2 separate regions of the Homo sapiens genome follow, and region 2 is reported to be linked to region 1. The links are microRNA targets in miRTarBase. Many come from high-throughput screens and were not tested one by one. Region 1 holds a microRNA gene; the other region holds the end of a gene's coding sequence.

Region 1 (7,125 bases):
TATTTTTAATGGAGACAGGGTTTCACCATGTTGTTCAGATTGATCTCAAACTCCTGACCTCAAGTGATCCACCTGCCTCAGCCTCCTAAAGTGCTGGGATTACAGGCGTAAGCCACCGTGCCTGGACTGTTGATGTTACTTTAAAATAGTAGTTTACATTATTACTGTGGAAATGTGGGGCACAAGACATAAGAAATACTAGGTATTAATTTTGAAACTACCCGGAATGGCTTATGGAGGTTTGTATTTGTTGATTTAAAAATAATTAAAAATGCTGTAATTTTTACAAATTAAAAAGTTCCCATAACTAATTATTTACATGAACAAAATGAACAGATAAAAATGAAAAATGGAAAATTTAGGGGCAGTAAGGTAAGGAAGAGGATATAAAATAACATAGGAAGAGAACCTAAAGAAAGTGAAGGTCAAAGATTTAGGAAAAGTTTAACCATTTCTTCAAACCTATAGTCATTTACCTAGGAAATACGGTCGGGTGACCCCAGAAAAACAGCCGAGTTATTTGCTCCAGGGGTTTTCAGCTTACCAATTAAAATAGACCACATTCTCAGTTCCAGACCCAGGGCCTGGCAGAGGCCTCTCCAAGCCCCTTGCATTTCAGTGGCAGTTGATGAACCTCTCATGGCCCAGCATGACTAATAGAGTTTTGATAGCTTTATGTATGAGGGAAACTTAAAGACATTTCTAACACATATTTCTCTCCATCCCAGGTATTAGAAGAAATGCTACTATTTTAAATAGTGGTATGATCATACTGTTTTAGTATCACTTCTTTATCATCATCATCAATGGGTATTAAACAGGGAAAAGAAACTCTTTTACATTAATGGAAACACTATATATTTATAAAATACTGTGTTTTAGAGGACAAAAGATATCACTTTCATATCTTTTTAAAGTGTCTAGTTTCTATATAAGTGTATCCTTAATATTTCTATTATACACTTAAATATTTCTCTTATACACTTAAATATTTCTATTTAAGTGTATAATATTAAAAATATCCGCCATAAGAAAAATACGCATTTACAAAAAAGGAAAATTAGAAATTATGTCCATCACAGAAATCTTCTACAGGATTCTGAATCTTAAAATTGTCTTCATATATTTAGGATAGAATTTGATGTATTTATTATTTTTAAGAGATATGAGTTATTGCATAAAGCTAAGTTAAAAGTTCAACCAAATGGAAACAGTATCCACAAATTCCTAAAATACTATTCTAATCATCTGAAACAAGAATAGGTTTTTCAAATAATAGAGTTAGTTGAATCAGTATTTGTTTGTTTTAGACACTTTATTAAGCTGAGAGCTGCTACTTTATTACTTAAACACTAAGCCTATAAGGAAATAAAAGGGGTTTAATCCAAGTAATGTGAAAATAACTAACCCTTCATCTTACTTTTTTCCCCCAAATAATTGTGGTTTCATTAATGGATTTTTTTTTTGTGAATGGGTCTAAAAAACACCTATTTTGAAACTGCAGAAAGGGCAGGACAAAACAAATCACTTCATAGATTTTTCTGGGAAATATTGCCCTACTACGCTTTTAAAAAAAATAAAAATACTGTAACACATTTCCTCATTTCTCTTACGAATACTTTCTTTTTGATATTGCAAATTCTATGCATACACAGAGCACCTCCTCAATGCCCTGCTGAAGCCCTCTAAAAATGTACAGACATGGTTTTAAAGTGATTTAATTTATACCATTTTAATTCAGCTTTGTAAAAATGTATCAAAGAGATAGCAAGGTATTCAGTTTTAGTAAACAAGATAATTGCTCCTAAAGTAGCCCCTTGAAGTCCGAGGCAGTAGGCAGCTGCAAACATCCGACTGAAAGCCCATCTGTGGCTTCACAGCTTCCAGTCGAGGATGTTTACAGTCGCTCACTGTCAACAGCAATATACCTTCTTTAGCCTTCTGTTGGGTTAACCTGAAGAAGTAATCCCAGCAAGTGTTTCCAAGATGTGCAGGCAACGATTCTGTAAAGTACTGAAGCCTCATTCAAACAGCAATATTCTAGAAAATGTCTCAAATTCAAAACAAATAAGAAGGCTCATGGATGTCTATTATTCATCACCGAGCTTCTAGTTTCTATAAAATTTTGTGATATACTAAAACAACATATATAAATGGTTTCATTCATTATTGTTAGCCACAAGAAGTAAATAGGCAAGTGGCCAGGTTACTTAATATGATTTCAACATGCATTATGTAATTACAATCCTTTAAGCAAAAGTGACCAAACACAGAAACTAAATTATCTTAACAGCGTAAAGCGTACATTTAACATCAAATACTGCAGTTGAGTGAACTTAGACTACCGTGAAAATATAAAAGGTCTACTTGGAAAGTTATAAACTCTGACAAAAAAAAAAAAGACTTACATGCTGCTTTTATAGATCACTTTTGCTCTAAAGTCTGCTCCCAGAGAGGACTTGTACAGTCAGCTGATTTTTGAAAGAGTAAGCAACAATCAGGAGAAAAACAGAAAAGAATAACGAGGTATAACACAGGCATATATCAGTATGTGGATCAAAGTTTCCCACTGGAAAAACACAGAACCTATCACTCACAACAGTGACGCACATTAACTCCAAATTTGAATGTTTTGAATTCCACTCCCATTCTCTTATGAAAATAAATGAGGAAAACTGAAGGTTAAGCTCTATCAGTCACTACTTTCCTGAAGTAATTCAAAACCATTCTGAATCTAGTGAAAGATTAAGTTGATACAGAAAAGTGGGTGTGCCTTTCCCTGAGATTTGTTTTTAGATGAAGTTACCGTAAGGTTCTTAAATTGTGTAAGTCTTAGTAGTTTGTGATCTCAAACCCGAAACAAAAATAAAATCCACACAAAAAGCATCATGTTTACTGAAACTAACAAATATGAAGAACTCCATAAATTACTTTCTCAAAGCAAAGGGTAACTCTATCCCATTAAGGTTAAAAAAGTTAATCTTTGAGTCAGCAGGTGAAAACAAGCTGAATTATGTTGTGGCCTTTTTCTTTATTAACTAAGGACTTTGAACTATTAAAACTTCCTAGGGAACCAGTTTTCTCAATGGGTCAAGTCACACAGGGGAACAAAGCAAACTTTATCAGTGCTGTGCAATTCTACATTCCAGAAATTCTTAGTACTTGGCATTCATATACCACTGCTGACTAGAGCTTGAGTCAATCCACCAAACTCAGCTATGGCTACCAACCTTGTGAACTTCTCACCAAGATACCCACTTCTTTTAAGTTAGCCACGACTAGACAGGCAGAGTACTCTTTAATTAAAATAGATAAATACCAAGGCTTACACCCTGGGGGGACATTGTATATCAGTGACTCTTTACAAAAAGAAAATATTTTTACCACCATAAATTTTTCTCAAAGTGACAGGTCCCCTACTTGCCTTGGAATCTTACCACTTTTAAATAACTGTAAATTATTAAATAACATGTAAAACAGTGACAAGTAAATACTAAGCAAACAACCTCAAATAACAAATAATTACTTAAATAATTCTATTGCCACCCTCTCACTTTGAGAATTGCTGATCCAAGTGGGACCTATACTACTCAGTAACCAAAAAAACAAGCATGTAGTTTAAGTAATAATGAGTCTCAGTTAAACTGGTAAAATTGTCTGGCATCTGACTGGAATAAATCTGCTTTAGCTTTCACATAGACTTCACCTAGCTCATATCTTGCTAAAAGAGGAGCCCACATACATACAGGCAATAAAGTGCTTTTCCATTTATGAAGTATTATAACTAAGATCTTATGGTCTTTAATTATTTTGTTTAGTGAAAATTTGATGTTTATTCATGAAGTTCTGAGCAAAACGCTGTGTTTTCAAAGTTATGTTAAGGAATTCATTGGATCAGCAATTCTCCAAGTGAGAGGGTGGCAACAGAATGACCAGGACAGCTTCTTCTAACCCCACATACCTGATTGCCTCTGCCACATCCACATTGCAATTCTTATTCAGCTGATGGGGAGGCTGCTGGGTATGTAAATTTTGCAAAAGCTATCAAACAATTTTGCTACACCTTCAGGGCAGAGAACCATTGATCTAGAAGGACTGAGCTAAATAAGTTTAAGACTAAAAAATCTTGCCATGACCTGAGAAATATGACCAGTAAATCCATTTAAAAATCGTGAATTAAAAACAAATATGGCAGAATAAGATCCAATTGTGTTCAATACATCAGACTCTGATTTGTCTTATATAACCCTAGAAATGCTTACAAAAAACAATGTACCTACTTTAAAACCATAAGGATACTCTTTAGCCCTGTTAGACAAGGTCTCTAAAGTCTTCCCACCCTAAATTGCAAATCTGGATGTCTGTACCCTGGACAGGTTTTATTATCTTCCTCACATCAGTTTTGTTTTAAGTGCTTGCAGGATTAATTCTTTCTGGTGGAGGGTTTAGAAGCAGCCCGAGATAAAGTGTAAAAATTTTTTTTAGCTACCCTGAACCATTCAATCCTCTTCCACCCTTCTCCTCTCATGTCCACATAACCTTCTCGCTCTCTATCCTTGGAGTGTTTGCAGTGAAACTCTAAGAATGAACATGTTCCATGTCAGCACTGGACCCAGTGCCCAGGCTCTACATCCTCCAATCCTCCATCTCTTTGGGGGCTTAGTGTCCAGGGTAGCTGCATTAATAGTTTTGGCATTCATCTTCTGTCTTGTTCCTTTGGTAAAACACACCTAAAGGCAAGAAATCTAGGTGGTCTTTGATATCTTTTCTAGAAAGCATACATAGAACTGATCTGAAATTGAAGTGACCTAAATGTACAAACAAAATTCTGCCCTTTAAAATTAATCTTTACCTTCTCTGATTCATTCTTTTACACATACTCCACACTCTTTTAGTCCAATTCAAGGGCTTCTAATTCATTATATTTCCTGCTAACGATGATAATGATGAACCTTCCCTTGAATTTCTTTGTAATTAATACAAATACAGACCTACCTACTCCTTGCCTCATGAAAGTGGACGAATGCTGTAAGCATTTACTGGGAGTGATTTCCCATGGATTGTGAAAATGTGAAAGATTGTTAACGAATTCAAATTCTAGGAAGAAGAGTATTATCTTGGATAGTATAGAGTTTACAGTTATAAGGAATAAAATCTCTTCTACTCTAGAAATGAGTATCGCTTAAATATCATTCTCTGATAAAATGGTAATGAAAAATAAATTGAGAATTAAGCAAAAGTGTATGTACTCAAGTTTAAAGCCTTAATTTTAATACAACCTCAACTATGTATTTGTTGTATGACAAATAATGCCTGCACATGATCTCATTTCATCCCTGCCACAGCAAGATAAGGCATCTATAATCATTACCATCACAGATAAGGACAACAGGCTTGGAGAATTGAAATCACATCCGTTACTCACTTTTCTATTCTGATTTTTTTTATTGTAAGCTTTTCTGAATCATTTGTGGAGTACTGGAGGGTGTGGGTTTCAATAAATATGAAGTAGTCAATCATAGTTCAATGAAAATTGCATTTTCTTTTAAAATTGGGCATAAAAAGTTAACAAATCAAAAAATGTTTGAGAGTAGAAACAAATATCCAGATCCTTTGGTGATAAAGCAGTTCATTCAGTTACTCATTCATTCATCATATATATTCACTTGCCAAACTCTCCTCTAAGTGAATACTGACTTACTATCTATGCCGGAGTTCCTCAGACAAGAGATCTCAAAGCCTGTCAGACAGCTTTTTTGGTTGTGGTCACCCTACTATCTTCCTCCTGCACTGGGACCCCCATCTGGCTGGAGCTCCTCCTTCCTACTTTGGCTGGCATTCTTACAAGGGAGGGGGATTCCAGAGGGTCAGGGCATCCCAGCCTCCAGGCTAATAAGGGACTTTCCACCCCACTCCCATCCTGCTCCCTCCCTTCCTTCAGGCAAGTCACTGTCAGCAGTTCCCTGGCACCTCCCTTAGACCACCTGCTGGCTCAGTTCACTCCTCCCCAGGGGCTCCTGCTCCAGGAGACTCCTCTCGGGAAGAGCAACCCTAACCAAGAAACGCCCTTCTATTGAAATAGGTCTTATATCTAAAGGGACATTAGGTAGATTTAAGATGAATTTCATTGTAATAATCACATGGCTGAATTTAGACTCCAAATGGCTGTTTTATTTTTTAAAAAAGATCAAAGCTGTAAGATTAAATTATCTGCATAATAAAAACTGAACATGATTCAGTGTAAAGAGAAATTATTACAGAGGAACATAACTCTATAATATAAACTGTATTTTAAAATATACATATTATATTTATAAATTTCACTATTTAAAAAACACCCATTTCTAATTTAGGTCAACTGTACGTAGTTGATATTTCCATCAATATTTTAAGCAAGTTAAGTGATTTTGGTGACCTTAAAGAAATACTAGAAAGTAATCTGCTACTCATTCACTATTTTAAAATTTAAAAAGCATTTCTAAAGCCAAGGTTAGTTTAGAGTCTTTTATTAATCATTTTGTGTAAAACAACAATTACCACAAAAAAGCTAGATTTCTGACATACTTAGAAACTAACTCATGCTGAAATTATATAATCCTTAGGACAAGTTTACAAAGCTATGCAATGACAAAAAACATTAGCTATCCCATCAAGTTAAAGAAACGCCAAGAACGAAACTGATATAATCATTACCATGTTAAAAATTCATGATTTTTTCTCTCTACTTTTCTGTATTTTACAAATTTTTAATGTGAATACTTTAATACAAATTGTTTTAGAAACAACTGACTCATTTCAGACGTAAGAAATAATATATATTTTATATCTCAAGAGTAATGTAGACAGTACCAAGATATTTCTTATGAACAGTTCTCTATCTAGGTAATCTTTGGAAGGAGAGAACATTGCATATACCTCTTCCCTGAAGGCTATGATTCTGTCTCGATCACTGCTGTACCTACTGGAGCACCCCATAATGTGCTTTTTATACAGTGGATGTTCAGTATATACTGGCTAATTTTTAAGCTGTTGATAAGAAGATCTTTAAAACATGCCTTACTTATAATGATCCAGCATCCTTCTTTTGAAAAATTTAAAATCTCATGCTCTTTAAAAAGTGCTTTT
Region 2 (7,125 bases), not on the chromosome of region 1:
GTGGGCGTATTTAGCCTTAGCTGTTGCTATGGTCTGAAGATGTCCTCCAAAATTCATGTGTTGGAAACTTAATCCCCCATGCAACAGTGTTGGACGATGGAGCTTTATGGGAAAAACCTTCATGACCGGACTGATGCCGCCACAGAAAGGACTTTCAAGAGGGGGTTCACCCCTTTCTTGTGAGGATGCACCAAGAAAGCCCTTGCCAGATGCCAGTAGCTTGATCTTAGACTTTCCAGCCTCCAGAACTATGAGAAATAAACTTCTGTTCTTTATACATTACCCAGTGTCAGGTGTTGTTACAGCAGCACAAAACGGACTAAGACAACCGTGCAGTGCATGTAAGAAATGGGCCGAAATGTGAAGAGCCTTAAATTCCAGAGTAAGAGAATCTATACTTAGTAACAGTGACTTTGGAAGTCACACTCTCTCCTCCTGCTTTGTCTGATTTGCATGGTGGCATTTGGATATGCAACCAAGGCGTTCTTTCCTTCCTATAATTAAAAGAGGGCAGCAACCTCAGCAGGGAGCTTTCACACAGCCTAGGGGTAGATCTCAAGTAGAAGATAAGAGGATTATCTGTGAAAACTCCCTAGTGCTCAGCAGTAACATCTTTAATTGGCTCCCCAACAGTTAAAACTACACTATACAAGGATACAATATCCACTCAGGGTGTACCCTCATGCAAATGAGTGTAAAACTGCCTTGGCAAAAATTCTAACAATGAGAAAATTAGGACAGTGAGAGTCCTGATCTAATCGACTCCATCTTGCTTCTGACCTCCAAGCTGTCCTGGTTTATTCCCGGGCATAGGCCGAACTAACTTTGGGAAGAATTTAGTTTATAGTTTAACTTTGAAAGAAAGATGATAACAGCCCTTTCCTGAAACAAGCCTCCCTTCTTGCCTAGGGACCAGTCTGCCTTTGTAGGGACTAATAAATTAGCTACAAGATTAGAAATTATAGTTTAGGAGTCACCGCAGCCAAGGCTGCATGATTCTGGAACCTCCCCAAATTGTTCCTGGGGATAAAATCACTGTTGTAAAACATAAGATCAGTGCTTGAGATATTCTGCAGACCCTGTGTTCTGAAGCACCACAGGGTCGAGCCTGTGATGAGCTGGTAATCTGGCTCAACCAGTTCTGTGATCCCACCTAGGAACAGAAGACACCAAGAAAAACCCACTTGACCCCCTACAATTTCATCTCTGATCCAACCAATCAGCACTCCTCACTTCCCAACCCCCTACCCACCAAATTATCCTTAAAAACTTCAATCCCAGAATTTTGGGGGATACTGATTTGGGTAATAAAACTCAGGTCTTCCATATAGCCAGCTCTGTGTGAATTAAAAATTCTTTTTTTTTGAGACGGAGTCTCGCTGGAGTGCAGTGGCACTATCTTGGCTCACTGCAAGCTCTGCCTCCCGGGTTCACGCCATTCTCCTGCCTCAGCCTCCCGAGTAGCTTGGATTACAGGTGCCTGCCACCATGCCCGGCTAATTTTTTGTATTTTTAATAGAGACGGGGTTTCACTGTGTTAGCCAAGATGGTCTCGATCTCCTGACCTCATGATCCACCCGCCTCAGCCTCCCAAAGTGCTAGGATTACAGGCGTGAGCCACCGCGCCAGGCCTAAAAATTCTTTATTGCAGTTCTCCTATCTTAATAAATTGGCTCTGTCTGGGCAGCAGGCAAGGAGAACCCATTGGGTGGTTACAAGAGTGCGCCCAGGTTCAGAGGCTAAGTGCTTACAAATGCTTCTTGCTGCTGAAAAGTGAAAAGGACAAAAAGACAATAGGTATTATTTAGTGAAGGTGAAAAAATTTAAGAGCTGGCTGTTTGAGTAGGTTAAGTGGCCAAATTTGATAAATAAGGAAGATATAAATGTTCCCATGCTTGGGCCAATTTTCCTTGTGAAATTCTTAAAGACAGGAAGGCATAAACTACTCCTTTCACCATCATAACAAATTGTGACTATTACAACATACACAATCACAAGTACATGGCAAACTCTAAAAACTATGTTATTAGTGATTTGTATTCATTCAGTAGATACCTATTGAACATATACCATATAGTACAGTTGGTAATAAAGGTAGGACGGGTTGTCAATGGGTGTTTAATACATAGTGATAAGCTATATTCAATTAAAAAAACCTTCAATTTGATTTCTTACGAAGTATACAGCTCTCCTAACTTCGAATTCTCCCTTTGAAAGCAAGCGTTCATTGTTTGAAATAGCTCTGTCTGTCCCTACTACTGTTTACTGACATTTTCTACATTTTAGCATCAGACCAAGTTTTAGAAATTTTTATAACTTGATTATCTTCTCCTTCCACCAAGCTGCCAAATGACTTGTTTATTTTGCCTCTCAGTTTGTCCAGATAAAGTTTATGGCTCACACAAATCTAGCCAGGTACATACCAGTAACTCCAAAGGGGGAAAGAGGTGAGTAAAAAAAGAAAAGCTGGAAGTCTTTTAATGTTAACATTTTATTTAAACCAGTACAAGCACCATGCTTAACAAAAGACTGTCCAAAATAAACATGCAATATGAACTAGCAGAGACTGAAACCACAGCTTAAGGAGTTGTGTCAGTTGTTGGTTTTGTTAAACGATGACAGAGAACTGTTAAAATTCACAAGACTAAACCATTAATGTTTCAAGCCTCCTGAATGAGATTATCTTGGACCATCTAAATCAGTGGGAACTGCCCTGGCATGTTAATGATCTCAAACAATATTCAAGTAATTATATTTATATGAATTATAATCCAAAAAGCAATAAAATACAATTTCTATCACAAGTTTACTGTATATGAGCACTGATTTGAAATGTCAAATGGCATAATAAAAACAAATTTCTCAAGAATATTCAGCTTGGGAGCATTGGTTTTAAGCGGTCTAGAAGATTACTACATTCTTCCAGAAATACAAAATAAGATTTGTCCAGAAATGTTTGAAACACATCCTCACAAAAGTTGTAATGGCTCAAACTCTATAAATTCCAGTATTATCAGTCTATTGAACAAATAGGGAAAGCAACCATAGTAAGAATACTTGAATTGATAGAATATGAGTTACTCTCTACTTCCACCAAATATCAGCATTTAAACTCTTATGAAAATATCTATTCATCACTAGTCCACATATGGATTAATGACATTGCTCAGGTTTTAAAAGCAGTCCAAACATTTTTTAAGTACACCTTCCTTAATATCTATATGGGTTGGGGGGAACAGCCAAATTTAATTTGGCAATAAACTCCCCTAACTGGAAATTTTTAGCTAAAGTGTCAGACAAGGATACAGTTTATGGCTACATTTGACTCCTGAAAATAGGAGATAAAAAAGGAGGGAAAAGTGCTGACACACATTTTGCCACACAGATTATTTAGTAATGACAGTAAAAAATTTAGCAACACACACTTAAACAAGAGTATGTTTAACTGCACTAGGCATTTAGTAAACTTTTAGAACTAGACAATTTGAACATTTTAGAAGTCAATTAAACAAAAACAGTCAACCAACTTTTTTCCTAATATAATTGCGTCAATACCAGAACAAAGTGATCACTATTCAAAACTCAGACATTTTGGAATTTCAGCATAGTAACCTGAGAAGTTTTCTTCGTATGTATTTTTGTTGTCATGGAAACCACACTAAATAATACTGTGATTACCAGTTGGTTCTATTTTGACATTAGATGCTATGCAGAACTTATGCAGGGCCAAAAATTTCAAAACTAACACTGACTTAGAAGACCACGAAGGAGGATCCCAGGAAAAAAGTTGCTGCTAAAAAGGACTCAGATTTAAGGCTGAATGGGAATGGTTGTACCAGAAAGATAACGGAATGTAAAAACTGGAATTATGAAATCTGGAGTTATTATTTGGGAAATGGCAGAAAAAAAGACAGTAAATACGAAACATACTTGAAAAGAACAATGCAAAATTTAGTAAGATGAAAGGGAAATCTATATAAATGTTTGAGAACATTTTAGAGCACGGGATTTGTAAATTTCCCCATAGGACAGATGGAATAAAAATGTCCTACTGATCCTCTAACCTCAATCTGTTGTCTTGCCAAAAACATGTTATTAATTAGGAGTCAGACAAGCTCAAAAAAGCATGGTTTATCACAGCTCTTTGCTCCTGTTAAAGACAGTAGCGGAACTAAGAGTGCTAACGTATGGCAGGTCAATATTATCTGACATTATGGAGGACCTCCAAATTTAAAAATAAGCAAAACTAAAACATGCAAGACAAAATAAGGAACTTCATTAAAAAATACATTCTTGCAGCACTAGTTTCTCTTACTGCTGCAAAACAGGTGAAACAAAACCTCATTTCCTTCATTCAAAAACATTAAAAACACTCTCCACTCACTTGGATTACATGTGCATTCCTACAGAATTATATGCATGTTATTCTCCAATATCAAAATACCTGTTTAAAGAATTTTTAAACTTCCTGGGTGAGTTTTCTCTTCTCTCTGGAAATTGGAATAAAGAATCTTTTCCCTCCAAGAACCAAAACAAACACCTACTCTAGCACTTCCTCATCTCCAACTTTCTATTGCTTCCTGACTTCTAAATTAGTGAAGCCAAACAGTGTTGGGAACAGAAGATGTTCTATTCAATATCGCAAAAATTCCAACTATCTTTACTTCTCACAGAAACCTCAAAAATAAAATGCAAAGAACATATGAATGGAAAACATGCCAAAATTTAAATTTTGCTAGTTTTGAGATGACTAAGATATTCTTAATATAAGAATACACTCACCAAGTTTGGTTAGTTTTTAGAGTCTCTAGACCTATTATCAAATTAATGTTCAATGGTTACTTATGTATTTGTTTTTACAAGTATGCCAAATATCAGAATCCTCGCTTTATGCCAAGAGTACCATCATCTAACAAGACTGGTTTAGTTAACTATTCAGGCATCCAGTTCAGAATATCTTCTGACATTTAGGATATAAGATGTGATTGCTATTGAAGTGTTAATGTTATTAACTATGGCCAAAGTTTTAAGATAATTTTTTCCTATGGCACAAAACTAACCACAAGTATACCCAAAATTATAACTCTCGACTGCCATATATTCACCAATGCAAGCAGATAGTTGGAATTTTTAAAATATGAAGTTGATTTTATTACAAATTTCAGATATACACATTAGAAAATTATTTTATTTGGACCCTTTAAAAAAGTATTAATTTCACCAAATGTGGAATACTGGCAGTGTAAAAGTCTTAAACTAACTTTAAAGCTAACAAATCAAAGGCACAGTATTAACACATTTAAAATAATTAGTGTTCACAGGACATTGAGGTGCTTTATAAATAAAGTGTTATTAACCTAGATTCAAAACTGTCTAGAAATGACATAAAAGGAATGAAGCCCTTGATTATTACAACCCACCAATTTCTAAGACTAAGATGCTATAAGGAGAAAAGCTAACAGTCATAATTCTATCATAAAATCTAACTCCCGACCTTAAAAATGAGTGACTGATGAACATAGTTTCTAGACTTGATTAAAAAGATACAGGAAACCAAAGAAGATACAGAATTCATCAATGTACTTGTAATACAGGTTACACTAAATTATTCATGGCTCAATACTGGGTCACTCAAGTCTTTGACCCCAAATGAATTTCAATGATTTGACAAGTGATAATACGCTATTTTCATAAATAAACTGCTAATATCCAGTATTTGTCAAAAGGAGGCAACTGTTGTCTCTCACAATCTAATATATCCACTTTCCAATGGTGTCTGTAAATAGTAACAAATTCCGAACCATAAGTTATAGAAATTAGTCACAAGAGTGCAAAAAGTCCCTGGAGAAAAGTAGTCCACCTAACAATTACCAATATAAGGAAACACTTTACAAAGTTTCATTACTATGAAGATGATTTCCTCTTTGTTCAAATTTTGCACAAATGAAGAATTTTTCTTTACTGCAGGAAACAAACTGTAAGTAACAGTGCATTTTTAGGCATAAATAAGTATTTATGTCTGATTCCAGTATGGTCAGGTTAATACATAAATACTTTAGAAACACAGAAGTTCACATTAGTGAAAAAATCCAAGTTTCTCACGTAACCATTCTTCAGTTAGGTCTTCGGTATTTCTTATTTCAAATACCTTTAAAAAAAAAAAAAACTTGGGTCATACTTTGACACTCCAAAAAAAAAGTCAAATATTTGAATTTTTTAAAATATATTTGAGTATTATACACCAAACTATTTTTGGTTATATATTTGAGTATTAAATACCAAATTCTGCTTCCTTTCATATTGTTCATGACTTAACCTGTGTAAATGAGATATACCTTTTAGGTAGAACTTCACTTCTTTTAAATGCTAAGTACTCAGTTACCAAAGTACAGCAATCAAGACAACATGAAACCAAAACTCTCCCAAAAGCACAAATCTACAAATAGTCTAAAAGAGCAGTTCTGTAAATCTTATCTCCTAGAAGACATCCCAAGTAAACACAACTAAAATCAATCTAGTTAGGAACTGAGGAACATACGCTGGTCTTCCAGAGTCTGAATGTCAAATGGAAATATCAGAGGGAGATGGAGATCAGCCACAAATCTCCAGCAAGAATCTGAATCAGGCCCAGAAAGCATAACGGCTATAGAAAAGCAATGTATTACAGCAGAAAGGATAGGATTTGGAGCCAGATGTGAATCCTAAGTCCTAGACAGAGCTAAATCCTAGCTCTGTCTAAATTTACTGTTATGCAACCCTGAGCAAGTCATTCATCCACTGGGTCTGTTTTCCTATCTACAGAATATCTCACAGGGCTGTTGTAAGGATTCAATGAGATTATCTGTAAAAGTAACTGGTAAACTGTAATGTCTCAACTTCAGCACTGTAGGGCATCCCCAGGATTAGAACAGACTTGAGGCCGTTAACAGCTCCTTCTTAACCACCCAAACCGTTAGAGCAACTCCAGTGTCCCTGTGTTACAAATCAGGAAAAAGTAATGTCTATAAAGCAGTGGTAACAATCACATGGGCTAAGGGGAAACAGCAGAGGGCACTTAAAGGCATTCCAGAGTTGATTATTAAGCACCCAAGGGGAAAATACTGATGCTGTTCTTAAAATAAAACT

The links. Region 1 holds the annotated microRNA hsa-miR-30a-5p (UGUAAACAUCCUCGACUGGAAG, at 1,881-1,902, opposite strand). A microRNA usually pairs through its seed, bases 2 to 8, with sites in the 3' UTR of a target mRNA and lowers its output. Matches are read on the target gene's strand: a 7mer-m8 pairs with bases 2 to 8, a 7mer-A1 pairs with bases 2 to 7 and ends in A, and an 8mer does both.
Region 2: the mRNA of GMFB is a reported target of hsa-miR-30a-5p. The part of its 3' UTR that is shown has no 7-base or 8-base seed match.

Annotation. Positions count from the first base shown.
Region 1 is chr6:71,401,715-71,408,839 of GRCh38, forward strand. It overlaps MIR30A (microRNA 30a), which reads right to left and starts at 1,907; the gene lies at 1,837-1,907. It overlaps LINC00472 (long intergenic non-protein coding RNA 472), which reads right to left. Exons shown (of 3, transcript NR_121614.1): 3 at 6,150-7,125. RefSeq lists an enhancer at 375-903.
Region 2 is chr14:54,472,012-54,479,136 of GRCh38, forward strand. It overlaps GMFB (glia maturation factor beta), which reads right to left. Exons shown (of 7, transcript NM_004124.3): 7 at 2,474-6,148. The coding sequence ends at 6,077. Among named protein-coding and RNA genes, the nearest start is that of GMFB, 13 kb to the right of the region's middle.